Linked DNA regions of Homo sapiens: regions 1 and 3 are each reported to be linked to region 2. Evidence: microRNA targets listed by miRTarBase, many of them from high-throughput screens and not tested one by one. Region 2 holds a microRNA gene; each other region holds the end of a gene's coding sequence.

Region 1 (4,185 bases), not on the chromosome of region 2:
GACCCAGTAAAGTGTAGTTTCTCTAATTTTCTCTTTGTTTTAGTGATTGATTGTACATGTACTTCGGCAGTGTAAGGAGCCATCTTTATTTGGAGTGATTAAGATTAACTCACCTAAAATTTGCAAAGGGTTTATGTTCTCCTTGCACACTAAAGCTTTTCATAATTTTTCTGAAATTTAGAAGATAACTATAAAAGCAGAAAAAATGTAGCTTTTTAAAAGGATAATTTTTTAAAATCCAAATATATTTATAAAGATTTCAAGTAGCCTAATACTCAATTGTTTCTTTCCAAATGTTTTCTTTAGTGGAAATAAGTTACCCATTTTTAAAATTACATTTTTATTATCCTATTCTTACATCACAATATATTTAATACCTTTTTACATAGTTTCTAGGTAAGATCTTTATAATTCTTTACCAAAAATTGAGTGATACATCAATGATACAGCAATGACTATCAGTTATTCACACTTTTTTTAGATTTTCAAAGAAAGCATTTTTCAAAACTATGTAAGGACATATGACTTACATTACAGTAATTAGCAACAATTCAGTAATAATCCAAAACATGAATTTTCCTTTTTAAAAAGTACTTAGTATATTTTTATACCTTTTATCTTCCTGTATGTGTGTGTCATTATTTTTAAAATTAAAAAGAATACAGAATGGGGCATCATTTGTGTATTTGCTAAAGGTTTACTATTTTCATTAGGGTCTTCTCTTTTGAGATAGAGTCTCACTCTGTCACCCAGGCTGGAGTGCAGTGGCTCAATCTCTGCTCACTGCAACCTCCATCTCCTGGGCTCAAGCGATTCTCATGCCCCCAGCCTCCCGTGTAGCTGGGATTACAGGCATGCGCCACCATGCCTGGCTAATTTTTGTATTTTTAGTAGAAATGGGGTTTCACCATGTTGGCCAGGCTGGTCTTGAACTCCTGACCTCAACTGATCTGCCCACCTCAGCCTCTCATAGTGCTAGGATTACAGGTATGAGCCAGCATGCCTGGCCAGGGTCTTCTTTTAAGGCATCAAAGCCCAAATAACTTACAAGATGTTAACAAATACATGACATTAATGAATACTCTATCAGAGCACTAGGGACTGAATGCTGGTGTCCCCCATTAAATTCACATGTTGAAAATCTAATCTCCAGTGTGATGGCATTTGAAGCTGGAACCTTCATAAATGGGATTAGTACCTTTACAATAAGAAATAAGGGAGAGATGGTTTCTCCCTCCACCATGTGAACATATAGCAAGAAGGCATTCATCTGCAAACCATGAAGAAGAATCAGCTAGCACCTTGGAACCTCATCAGGAACTTAATTGTCTAGCACCTTTATCTTGGACTTCCCTGCCTCCAGAACTGTGAGAAATATATTTGTTGTCTAAGCCACCCAGTTTATGGTATTTTGTTATAGCAGCCAAGCTAAGACAGCAATTAGTACCAAGAAGTGTGGTGATGCTATAACCAATATATAAAGATGTGGAAGCAGCTTTGACGTTAGGTAACAGATAGAAGCTGGAAGAGTTTTGAGGTACTAGAGTACCTGGAAGAGTACTGGAAGAGTTTTGAGGTACTAGTTTTTTTGCTAGAAAAAGCCAGTATTGCCATGAAGGGATTGATAGAGGTGATTTTGGTGAGGGCTCAAAGAGAAGAGGGTGGGAGAGAAAGCCTCCATCTTCATAGAGAACACGTAAATCACCATGAAGATAATGTTGGTAGACATGGACAATAAAGGCCATTCTGATGAAGTCTCAAATGAAAATGAGGAACCTGTTATGGGAAACTGGAAGAAAGGTGATCTTTGTTATAATATGCCAAAGAACTTGGATGATTGTGTTCATGTTCTAGTGTTTTGTGGAAAGTAAAATTGTGAGCCATGAAATTAGATATTGAACTGAAGAGATCTCCAACCAGTGTTGAAGGAGTGCCTCGGTTTATCTTGACTGCTTAAAGTAAAATGTGACAAAAAATGAAGACAGAATTCTTAACAAAAACGGAACCAGAACTTAAAAGATGTGGGAAATTATCAGTCTGTCTGCATTACAAAAAGATAAGAAAACACGTTTGGTAGAGAACACTAAGAGTGTAGCAGACAAGTCATCCAATTAGATTTATGTGGGTGTGAACCACAGACCTAATCAGCCACCCCAGCAGGAACACTGCTAGTTTGTATTGAAAGGAATGGAGATGGGACAGAATGAGGGAAGACTGTTGGACTTCTTGAATTTGGGACCATAGAGCTATTCAGCTGTGAATGTACACTATTCTTCAAGAAAAGGAGAAACTGACCCGGAACAATGATTCAGAGAACATCAGTGGTACCTTCTCAGTTTCAAAAGGGGCAGTCATTGCCTTGGTTTCAACAGGCCTGACAGCTTCCGCCTGGTGATATGGGGGTCATCCTCCTCCAACATAGTCCTGGGGGCAATACCTCTGCCTCACTGGGTCCTGAAGCCAGAGTATCAGGCCAAAGAGGATTATTACTAAGACTGAAGATCTCATGGTGTTTGCCTTGCTAGGTTTTGGACTTGCTGGGGACCCATTACACCTTCCTTTTTTCCTGTTTCTTGCTTTGGGAATAGGAATGTCCACCCTTTGTGTGTCCCACCATTGTACTGTGGAAGCACATAACTTGTTTCATTTCACAAGTTCAAAGCTGGAAAGGAATTTTACCTCAGGATGAATTCTACCTTGAATCTCACCCACATCTGATTTAGACGAGACTTTGGACTTTAGAGTTGATGCAGGAATGAGTTAAGACTTTTGAGGCTGTCGAGATGGAATGTATGTATTTTGCATGTGAGGAGGACATGAATTTTGTAGGACCAGGTACAGAATGCTATGGAGTGAATCTTTGTGTTCCCCCAAAATTCATGTGTTAAGCCCTAACCTCCAATATGATGGTATTTGGAGGTGGGGCCATTGGGAGGTAATTAGATCATGAGGGTAGAGCCCTCATGAATGGGGTTAGTGCCATTATAAGAGACATAAGAGAGTTGATCTCTCTCTCATGTGAGGACAAAGAAGGACATCTATCTGCAAACTGGGAAGAGGGCCCTCACCAGAAACTGCATTAGCTGATGCCTTGATCCTGAGCGGAATTCCCAGCCTCCAGAACTGTGAGAAGCGTTTGCTGTTGTTTAAGCCATTCGGTTTATGGTGTTCTATTATAGCAACCTGAGCTAAGACATAGGGCTTGGAAAGATATTTAATTTTCTAAACATATCTAATGTTTAGGGTGAGTATTATTAGATCTGAAGACAGACATCTGTCTATGAAATATGTTATTCTAGGCAACTGTGGAATATATTTTCCATCCCTCTTCTCCTACAGATCTATTTGGGAACTTGGAAGTGAAAAAGAATACATGTAATTTAGGTTATCAAGTTTGGTTTCTTAATTTAATTGAATCTATTGCAGCTAATCTCCTATTTCTCATTAAACTTACAGGAAAATAATCAGACTTCATACAATGTAAGTATAACTTGTATAAAATCCAAATGAAGCAGGAATTTTGGTGAAGCAGGGTATGGAGAATATATATGTCTTAAAAATACAATGTGTGAAAAACATAGCCTGTTATGTCTAGAGTTTTGGGGGTATGTGCAGTTATTTCATGTAATGGATTTTTATCAAATACAAGGTATTTTTCCACCAGAATACTTCCTGTGTTTTATTTACTGCACTGAATCCACAGCCTGTCTTTTCTCGTGTCACACTGGAATGCTGTACTTCACATCTTCTTTTTTTTAATGGGAAAGATTCCGAGGATGTCTCTTCTTTCTGAGTATAGATGACTGTAGGTAAAATACATACCTAATATGGAGAAAGAAGTTGCAAAAGTAAGTAAGGTTAACTATTTCTCTGGAAGAAACAATGCTTTTAAAATACAGTCAGAGTGCTGCCCAAATCCAGGGAGAAGACACTTGCAAGGGAGATGTGAGAAGGAATGTTTAAAGAAGTGTCCAGATTTTATGCAGAAAGAGAGGTAAATCAAACTCTTCCATCCTACTTTTTTTAATGCAAGGAATTGTCTTCCTTTCTTTAGCATAGCTCTCTCCACCTTCCTCTAAAGTTTCACATTTTTGTCTTTTCTCTCTATATGTTGTTCATATGTTTGATATCTGTTACCTTCTAGAGATAATCATTATTTTGGAGATTTGTGAAGGTTAGAGCTGG
Region 2 (4,188 bases):
TCACAATAATCGATGTCCAGCTGCAAATATCAGGAACAGCGAAAAGGGGGAGGGATCAGAGTAAAACAAAGGTGTCACGATAACTTCTCTGGGGCAGCAGGCACTGGAATCTGACAGTTCCTTCGGTTTCTATTAGGAGACACCCTGTAAGATACATCTCTATGCTGTAGGGACTGCCAATGTCCAGTATTTGAAACAACGGGGCAGAGTGGGAGAGGGAGCACAAGAGGGGGTGGAGGGAACCAAAAAGAACACAAAGACGAAGACACTAAGAAGAAAATAATTCGTCAGTATCTCCTTCCACCAGCATTTGTCTAGCAGAGACTCTCTCATCAATAGGATGTTAATAGATGTTAGGAAATTCCAGACACAAGAGCTGAGGGAAAAGTAAAGGGAAGCGGAGGAGGCAGCGGCTCTGCTCTAAAAACTTGGCCATCTGAGGTTTTGCCACCACTCACCTGACAGAGGTTTCCAGAGAAACCAGTGGGACACAGACACTGGAATCTGTTGATTTCATTCTGACAGTGACCCCCATTCAAACAGGGGTTGCTGGCACATTCATCGATGTCTCTCTCACAGTGATCGCCTGCATAGCCAGGTGGACAGATACAGCGATAACCATTAACCAAATCCTAGAAGAGGAGAAGGGGAGAGAGAGACACATGCTTTTTTTCTATGTATTCCACAAACACAGGGCTTCAGCGGTTTAGCATGACTGTTGCGGTTTAGCTGGTTCACTGAAATAGCCAAATGCTAAACCTCTGAAAGTGGTTAGAGGAATTTCTATGTGCATGCCTTCAAAATGACTCCCACGAGGCTGGGGTAACATAAGCCCTAGCGAAACTTCCAAGAGACTCTTTTTTCACCCAAATTTTTAAATCTCACAGGGACAGAGCTCTCCTAGTGTCGCACAAATCTAAAGATTTGTTGTCAATTGTCAAAGTTTTGATTTAAGCAAAGATTTACATACCCGACAGGAGGCGTCATTCTGACACTGGCCAAGGCAGTCATTAATATCTAAAAAATAAATAAGTCATCATTTTAAAGAGGTAATTTACAGTGAAATTGGGCTTAATTGAAAAGCCTTCTCAGCTCAGGATAGATAAGTTTCAAATCAGATTTCCTGTGTGCTTTCCGTGAGATAAGGTTATTACGCTGGGTGGGGACCCTCCCTAATTCTTCCAGAATGAGGGAGTGAAACTTCACATCATTGTTTCAGCCACATTATCAGAATATGGCTGGTTTTCGCAGCTAATGAGCCTGATAAAGTGTATGTTTTCACTGCTGCCCTGACCACTCCCTCTCAAAAAACCATTCCCACTCTAAGGTTTTCCTTCTACTGCTCAAGTCCTAGGACTGGAGCCCCAGTACGGACCAGCAAGTCGGCTACCCAAGTTTCATGAAAATCAAAATGGAAACAAAGTCACTCACTTATGTCACAATTCTGACCCATCCAGCCGGGAAGACAGTCGCAGTAGTAGCTGGCAATGAGATTCTTACAGGATTTGGCGTTTACACAAGGTTTGGCCTCACATTCATTTGCATCTGAAAGGAGATGGGGATGAGCATGAGAAATGAAGTTCAACCCCCATCTCCCCCACCTTGGAAAAAAAAAGAACAGGCCAGAGTTTGTCTGAGACATGAGACATTTTAATAAGCTAGCTAAATAAAAGATACTAGAGGTTCCCTCTATTTTAAGCATCTGATCCCTCTCCCTAGCTATTATCCAATAAGAACCCTAATTGATAACTTTCCAGCTGCTAGTTAACCAGCCCCCAACAAAACAGCAGAAAGCCACCAGGCATTTCTGTGCAAAACCCAGGCAGCCTAGTTGCTGGGATTTAAATGTGGCAAAAAGAATGCAGACAGCTCATTCCTCATGAGATCATCCCCTTTTGGAACCCAGCTGAACACTCCTCGGACAGACGATTGACATGGTTCAAGGAATCCCACGACTTTCCCACAGGGCCTAAAAGAGCTAGTCCATTTGCATTCAAGTTATTTCTCCCAGGCCTGCTAGACTCTTGATAATAAATTACTTCTTAGCATGATGGAGTGTGAACTCACACTGCCGGCCACACGCTCGTCTTCTGTAATGGCTTTGACAATCAAAGCCAACCTTGGTATAAAAATTACAGTCACAGGGATGTTCTTACCTAACTGGCACGTTTTCCCAGTCCACTGTGGGGGGCACACACACTTAAATCCGTTAACCAGGTCCTGGCAGGTGCCCCCGTGGGAACAGTTATTAGGAGAACAGTCATCAATGTCTGGTCAACAAGAAAAGGAGGGGGTTGACAATTTAATTCAATCCATCTGACAATTAGATCCTTTAACATCACCTCTTACATGAGGGGCTGTCATTGAAGAGCCAGACACCTGCTACAAGGAAAGCTACAGCAGGACAAGTGGGACGGTGACGATAAGGCCGAAGCCTTGATTTTAGCTTTAAATCCCCCACTGCCCCAGTTCATGTAATCCCCAACCTAAGCAGTGGGGGAGAAAGACAGCTGGATACTGACGGAGCATCCGCCCAGGAGGAACACAGGACATCTCTATCTGCCTAATCTTTATTTTTAAAGAAAAGTTTCATCATGGCTCAGAAGTAGCTAAGAAGTCAGGAAAAATAGTTCTTTACAGGTGGAAAACCTTATTCCTCTCATTTGCTTACAGAGTTTGCCCAAAATAGCACACCTAGAGGCTGCATTCTCCACTTCTGCTCTGACCAGAGACAACTCCTAACAATTTATGAAGTATTCACTTTTGTGTCTTTATGACAACCTCGGAGATGGGAATTGCTACTGTGCCATTTAAAGAGGGCCCGGGGAGCTTCTGTGGCCTGCTGGAGTTCCGCAAGTGACAGGTGGGGGCCTAGGACCAGCACAGGCAATCTGACCCCAGAAATCCACATCCATAACCACACCTGGGGTGCTGATGACAGCGGTTCTCAGACCTGGCTGCACTGCAGAATTCCAGAAGTTTATCAAAGACCATGGACTCCCCGATTCTGGAGGGAATCTGGGGGACCCAGAGATTTACACTGTAAAGCAGCCCAGGTGATTCTGATATACAGCCCTGTCTCACAGCCAAAGGAACTCTGCAGGCCAGGTTCTTCTCTGGGGCCCCCTGGCCCTATGACAGAATCCAGTAGTAAGTGACAACCTCCCCTGAAGGCAGCCTCTCCATGGCTGCAAGAAGAATAACCACAATTGGAAGGTGGCCAGCTCCAGGAAGCAGATGCAAAGGAACAAGCGATTCCACGAGGACGTTCCTTCCAAGAACAGATACATGCGCTACCTTAGTGGGACAGGATGGGGGTGCTGGGAGACTTCCAAACACACAAGCCACCAGACTGCTTACCAGACTTAGGCCTGCACCCGCCCCTCTCTCACCGAGACATTCACACTGGACAAGCCTAGGTACCTCTCCCCAGCGTGGTATCTTGGCACAAGGATCCTTAGAATGGACACAGGCTGAAAATTGGACTTACTTGTAGAGCATGTGGGGCCGGTCCAGCCTGGGGAACACTCACACTCAAAGCCCAGGGAGGTCTCCTTACAGCTGCCTCTGTTGTGACAGGGATCAGAGAGGCAGGCGTGCTCAGCTGCAAAAACCAGGATGGCAGTCAGAGAGGGATGCCTGCACACCGTTACCTCCCCACACCCCCCTCCAACCGAATCCCACACCACAGCCACTAGTGCAAGCATATTTCAAAAACCAAAAGCAAGCGTGTGATAGAACCCTGCTGTGTCTAGGAAAGAAAGGAAGTCATCTTTCTCGCTGAGCTGTCTCTAACCACATTCCAAGACATCTCAGAGCTGGGGTCATTTCATCTCCCGCTGCCTCCTATACGAATCAGCATCACCCAAAAAACTTTAGAGACTTGAAAGTTACAAAGGCTTATAGAATGGTTGGGATAAGGCCTATCTTTGGAAGCTATTTTCACTTTTTTTTCCTTAAACAAGTCCTTAAGTATATTTTTTAAAAGCTGAGTACAGAAAAATTAGACAAAGGGCTCTCATTCATCTTGGACCACTTACCAATTTCACAGTTGGGTCCTGAATACCCCTCAGGGCAGGAACACTGATATTTGTCAGGGCCTGTGTTGCTACAAGTTCCCCCGTTGAGACACGGCTGATGAGTCCCACAGTAATTGAGATCTGCCAAAAAGATCCTGGAGTCACTAAG
Region 3 (4,165 bases), not on the chromosome of region 2:
CCTCCACTTTCCCGGCCCTTGCCCTTCCTCCTGACCTTGGCCTGTCTGTTTCAGAGTGGCCTCCCCTGCCGGTGCCGGTACCCTCCATGCCCTGAGCCGCTACAGCCGCTACACGAGCATCCTGGACCTTGACAACAAAACCCTGCGCTGCCCCCTTTACAGAGGCACCCTGGTGCCCCGCCTGGCAGACCACCGCACACAGATCAAGCGGGGCAGCACCTACTACCTGCATGTCCAGAGCATGCTCACCCAGCTCTGCTCCAAGGCCTTCCTCTACACCTTCTGCCACCACCTGCACCTGCCTACCCACGACAAGGAGACAGAGGAGCTGGTAGCCAGCCGCCAGATGAGCTTCCTAAAGCTGACCCTGGGTCTGGTGAATGAGGATGTTAGGGTGGTCCAGTACCTGGCTGAGCTGCTGAAGCTGCACTACATGCAGGAATCTCCAGGGACCAGCCACCCCATGCTCAGGTTTGACTATGTCCCCAGCTTTTTGTATAAAATCTGAGGTCGGTCCCAGACACTGTGACCAAGACCTGTGACTCAGGGTATGGGGAGGGGAGGGGTTGGCATGACCAAACAGTTGCCTGAGCTGGACTGTTTAAGTTTCTGGTGTCTGGCAGCATGGTTCCCACGTGGCTCCTAGTAGTTTTTAAGTTGGACATGGGCAGAAGTGGAGCCTGGCTCCCTCTAAAGGCGTCTGGAGGGATGGTGACAGCTACATTTGGCTCCCTGGTGAAGAGTGGCCCCTGGATATGGAGGGGGCCTTGGTTTTCTGAGGACTGGCAGCCAGGGCAGAAGGGAAGCCACCAGTCCCTTGGTGGGGCAGGGTGAGGGCAGGAAGGCCAAAGCCTGATGGGAGGAGCACACTGGCTGTATTCAGCATTGCCGGACACTTGAGTGGCAAAATGAACGAGGGTGACAGCCAGGTAACTGTTGTGGTTTGGTGGAAAACAGGAGGGCAGAACACCCATCGCCTCCTTCAGACCCAGATGCAGCCCTTTATTTGCTTCCTGGAGCCCACTGTCCTAGGGGAGGCCCTGGACCAGCCAGTGGGGGTGAGAAAGGCTGCCACCCTCTGGGTCGTGGGAAACATGCGACCTTGGCCTCAGGGCCACAGAGCGTGAGCAGCACCCTGTCCGCTGTCCTCGCCACCTTTACCTGGGAGAGAAGTGCCTGTGAGCGGGCCTTGGGACTCACTCCCCATACTCTTTCACCAGGAACGAGCAGAGTGTTCACTAGTCCTAGTGTGAAGCGGGCACAAGTGACCAAAGCCAATGGTGAGGACCACCTTGGGGGCTGGAGAGCACAGCAGGCAGAGCAGGGCTGAGGCGCCATGAGGCCATCACCACCATGCAAGGGAGGAGCAGCCAGCAGCTCTCCTGGGTGGCCCACTGGCTCCTGCCGGCCAGAGCGCATGAGCACTGACCTTCCTCGTGGGGAAGGTCTGCAGACCCGTGTGAACATGGCAGAGGCCACACTCCAGCTCCCACCCACATAAACCTTTGCAACCACTTCACTACCTCTCACTGGGTCTCGTGGGCTTGGGACAGCAACGGTTCTGTTTAGTCAGCTGGTGCAGGTGGTTGGCCCAGCCGATGAGAACTCAAATAGCACGGATTTCCTGGATGAGCTACCACGTGGCGCTCTTCAGGTTCTGCCTCTGGGAGGCTGTGTGCACCTCAGTCACCACAGCTCACGGCCGTCCCCAGTTGAGTCCCCCTTCTGAGGACAAGTTTGAAACTGGGAAGGAGACACCCCCTGGTTCCGCCAGCACCTATCCCACTGATAGTGATCCCCTGGCCTCCCCGAGCCTCCTTAGGCAATGGCCACTGGTTTGTAGACAGAGAGTTTCTTGCAGCCTTGAAAATTTTATTCCCTAAGTGGGGACAGCTCTGGTATTACTGCTTCTTTAATTTGTTCCACAAAAATTATGCTGAAATGGACCTGAATCAGCCCTGGGTGTGCTTCTGTTGGCGCCTGCTGCTGAGGCCCGGCCTGCCCATCGGCCTGTAGTACGCCATCGAGGTCATCATGGAGCCAGCCAGCTTCTCTTCTCATCAAGGAGGCAGAGACCCCTGGTGGAAGCCAAGAGTGACCGAAGAGGGCTTGCATCACGTCACTCCAGTGGTTCCCTCCTTGTCCAAGTCCTCGTTTTAAGGGCATGGCCCGTTGGCTCCAGCCGTTGGCTTCTGTTCAGGGTCCTTGCTCCCATCAGAGGTGTTTGATTTTGCTCCTGGGGCTGCGATGGAGAACCTTTTGTGGCAGATGGTGCTGCCTACATCTCATTGGTTCTCTGTACCTGTGCCCGTTGCGCATGTTCACAGACAGGAGAGTCGCCAGCAATACCTTGGCAGCCTTTAAATGTGAAACGTCTGTTACTTGCGCTGGAGGCAGAGGCTGTGCAGGGAGCCTGCTTCTAATCGTGGGCTCCCTTATCTGTTACGGTTCCCTCCCCTCCTGTTCTAGATGCTGATTCGTTTTCTCACTGGCTGGTTAATTGCTGTCTACTTAGGCCTCCAAGGCCATAACTGTGCAACATTTTATCTGAGAAGGAAGGAAGGTCAGAAAGTGATCACTGGCACCACCACTGTGGCATTCCTGTCACACCAACACAGAAATTCACAGCTCATACTGTTCTCACCTGGGAAACTTGGGAAGGGCTGATGAGTTTGGGGCAGATCCTGAATTGCAGCCACACTTGGCCTTCTAGAAGCTGAAGTTGTGCCCTCAAGTGGTCCTAAGTAGAAGTCCACTTGAGGTATTTGCTGGCACACACCCTCAAGGGTGGTTCAGAAGGTCCTGAAACCTAAGGCAAAAGGCTGCTGGGGCATGAACAGAACAGACCGTCTCAGGGGCAGCCATGTAAGTGGCAAGCAGGGCTGGTCTCCCTCAAGGTGGTTCTTCATTAAGTAAAGATGGCTTCGTGACTAGTGTTTAGCTCCCAGATTTATATTTGGGTTAAAAACTAACTTTTCAATGTGGCAGTTTCAAAGGATTACTTGATGCAAAGTATGTTTCCTTTCAAAGGGATCTTGACGTGGTACCAGGACTGAGTCATGATTTGGGCAGAGGCAGTTAACACTGGGAAGCCCTGCCCCTCCCTATGCCCCCTTCACTCCGGGGAACTGAAACCTACTCTGAGTCTCACATCTCTAAACCTCAGTGCTGAGACCTATGCAGTGGGACTAATCTCATCAAGAATTTTCAGTTGAGGCCGGGCGCAGTGGCTCACGCCTGTAATCCCAACACTTTGGGAGGCCGAGGTGGGCGGATCACCTGAGGTCAGGAGTTGGAGACCAGCCTGGCCAACATGGTGAAACCCCATCTCTACTAAAAATACAAAGAAAGTTAGCCAGGTCTGGTGGTGCGTGCCTGTAATCCCACTTACTCGGGAGGCTGAGGCAGGAGAATCACTTGAACCCAGGAGGCAGAGGTTACAGTGAGCCGAGATCGCGCCACTGCACTCCACCCTGGGCAACAAGAGCGAAAACTGTCTCAAAAAAAAAAAATTTTTCATTTGAGGTATTCTTCCAGTAGAAGGTTAGTAAGTTTTTAATGAAACCATTAAAAATTACACTTCCCAGAAAATAGATGACATCAGTGCCCCTTGCTACTTTCTCAGTCCTCACTATTGCTTTGAGGGCCCAGGTACTGAAACTGGTTGTCTTGAGTTTTGTGTCAGCTTTTTCTCCAGTCCATTATCCCCCTCCCTTGCTTCTGAAGCAGTCTAGGTTAAACTAGCCAGGCAGGTAGTTGTGGACTGGTGATTTTCAAAAGCCCCACTTTAGAGATCAGGCCACAGCTTTTTATATCGCACAGGACACATCAGCCTGAGCTGCTGCCTCATGCCTGTTTCCCCAGGAACCTCACTCCTTTGGTAGAACCTTGGGATTTTAGAAATTGTGGCTTTTCCATAACTCATTTACTCCAACAGTTGAAGTTACACACATTGCTCCCAAATTTGGAAATAGACCACAGTACCTTACCTTTCATTCCCCATCTGGCCTTTACCTTCTTTGCTTCAGTGGTTGAAAACAGTTGCCATATTCAAAGTATAGTAGATTTCAACCTCACACAAATGACAAGTCCCATTTTACAATCCTAGGAAGGCCCACCAATTTCATTTCACGCGCCAGGGCGGCTGCAGTTGGAGGCCGAGGGC

Evidence for each region. Region 2 holds the annotated microRNA hsa-miR-6870-3p (GCUCAUCCCCAUCUCCUUUCAG, at 1,546-1,567, opposite strand). A microRNA usually pairs through its seed, bases 2 to 8, with sites in the 3' UTR of a target mRNA and lowers its output. Matches are read on the target gene's strand: a 7mer-m8 pairs with bases 2 to 8, a 7mer-A1 pairs with bases 2 to 7 and ends in A, and an 8mer does both.
Region 1: miRTarBase lists HACD4 as a target of hsa-miR-6870-3p. The part of its 3' UTR that is shown has no 7-base or 8-base seed match.
Region 3: the mRNA of SMCR8 is a reported target of hsa-miR-6870-3p. Seed matches in the 3' UTR shown: 7mer-A1 at 1,598-1,604 and 7mer-m8 at 1,627-1,633.

Annotation. Positions count from the first base shown.
Region 1 is chr9:21,003,298-21,007,482 of GRCh38, forward strand. It overlaps HACD4 (3-hydroxyacyl-CoA dehydratase 4), which reads right to left. Exons shown (of 7, transcript NM_001010915.5): 7 at 1-3,822. The coding sequence ends at 3,740. Among named protein-coding and RNA genes, the nearest start is that of HACD4, 26 kb to the right of the region's middle.
Region 2 is chr20:10,648,091-10,652,278 of GRCh38, forward strand. It overlaps MIR6870 (microRNA 6870), which reads right to left and starts at 1,605; the gene lies at 1,546-1,605. JAG1 (jagged canonical Notch ligand 1) reads right to left here. Exons shown (of 26, transcript NM_000214.3): 7 at 4,041-4,160; 8 at 3,491-3,604; 9 at 2,157-2,270; 10 at 1,432-1,545; 11 at 971-1,017; 12 at 459-632; 13 at 1-20. RefSeq lists a silencer at 3,091-3,385.
Region 3 is chr17:18,322,563-18,326,727 of GRCh38, forward strand. It overlaps SMCR8 (SMCR8-C9orf72 complex subunit), which reads left to right. Exons shown (of 2, transcript NM_144775.3): 2 at 55-4,165. The coding sequence ends at 508. Among named protein-coding and RNA genes, the nearest start is that of SMCR8, 9.4 kb to the left of the region's middle. RefSeq lists enhancers at 1-132, 133-632 and a silencer at 3,162-3,271.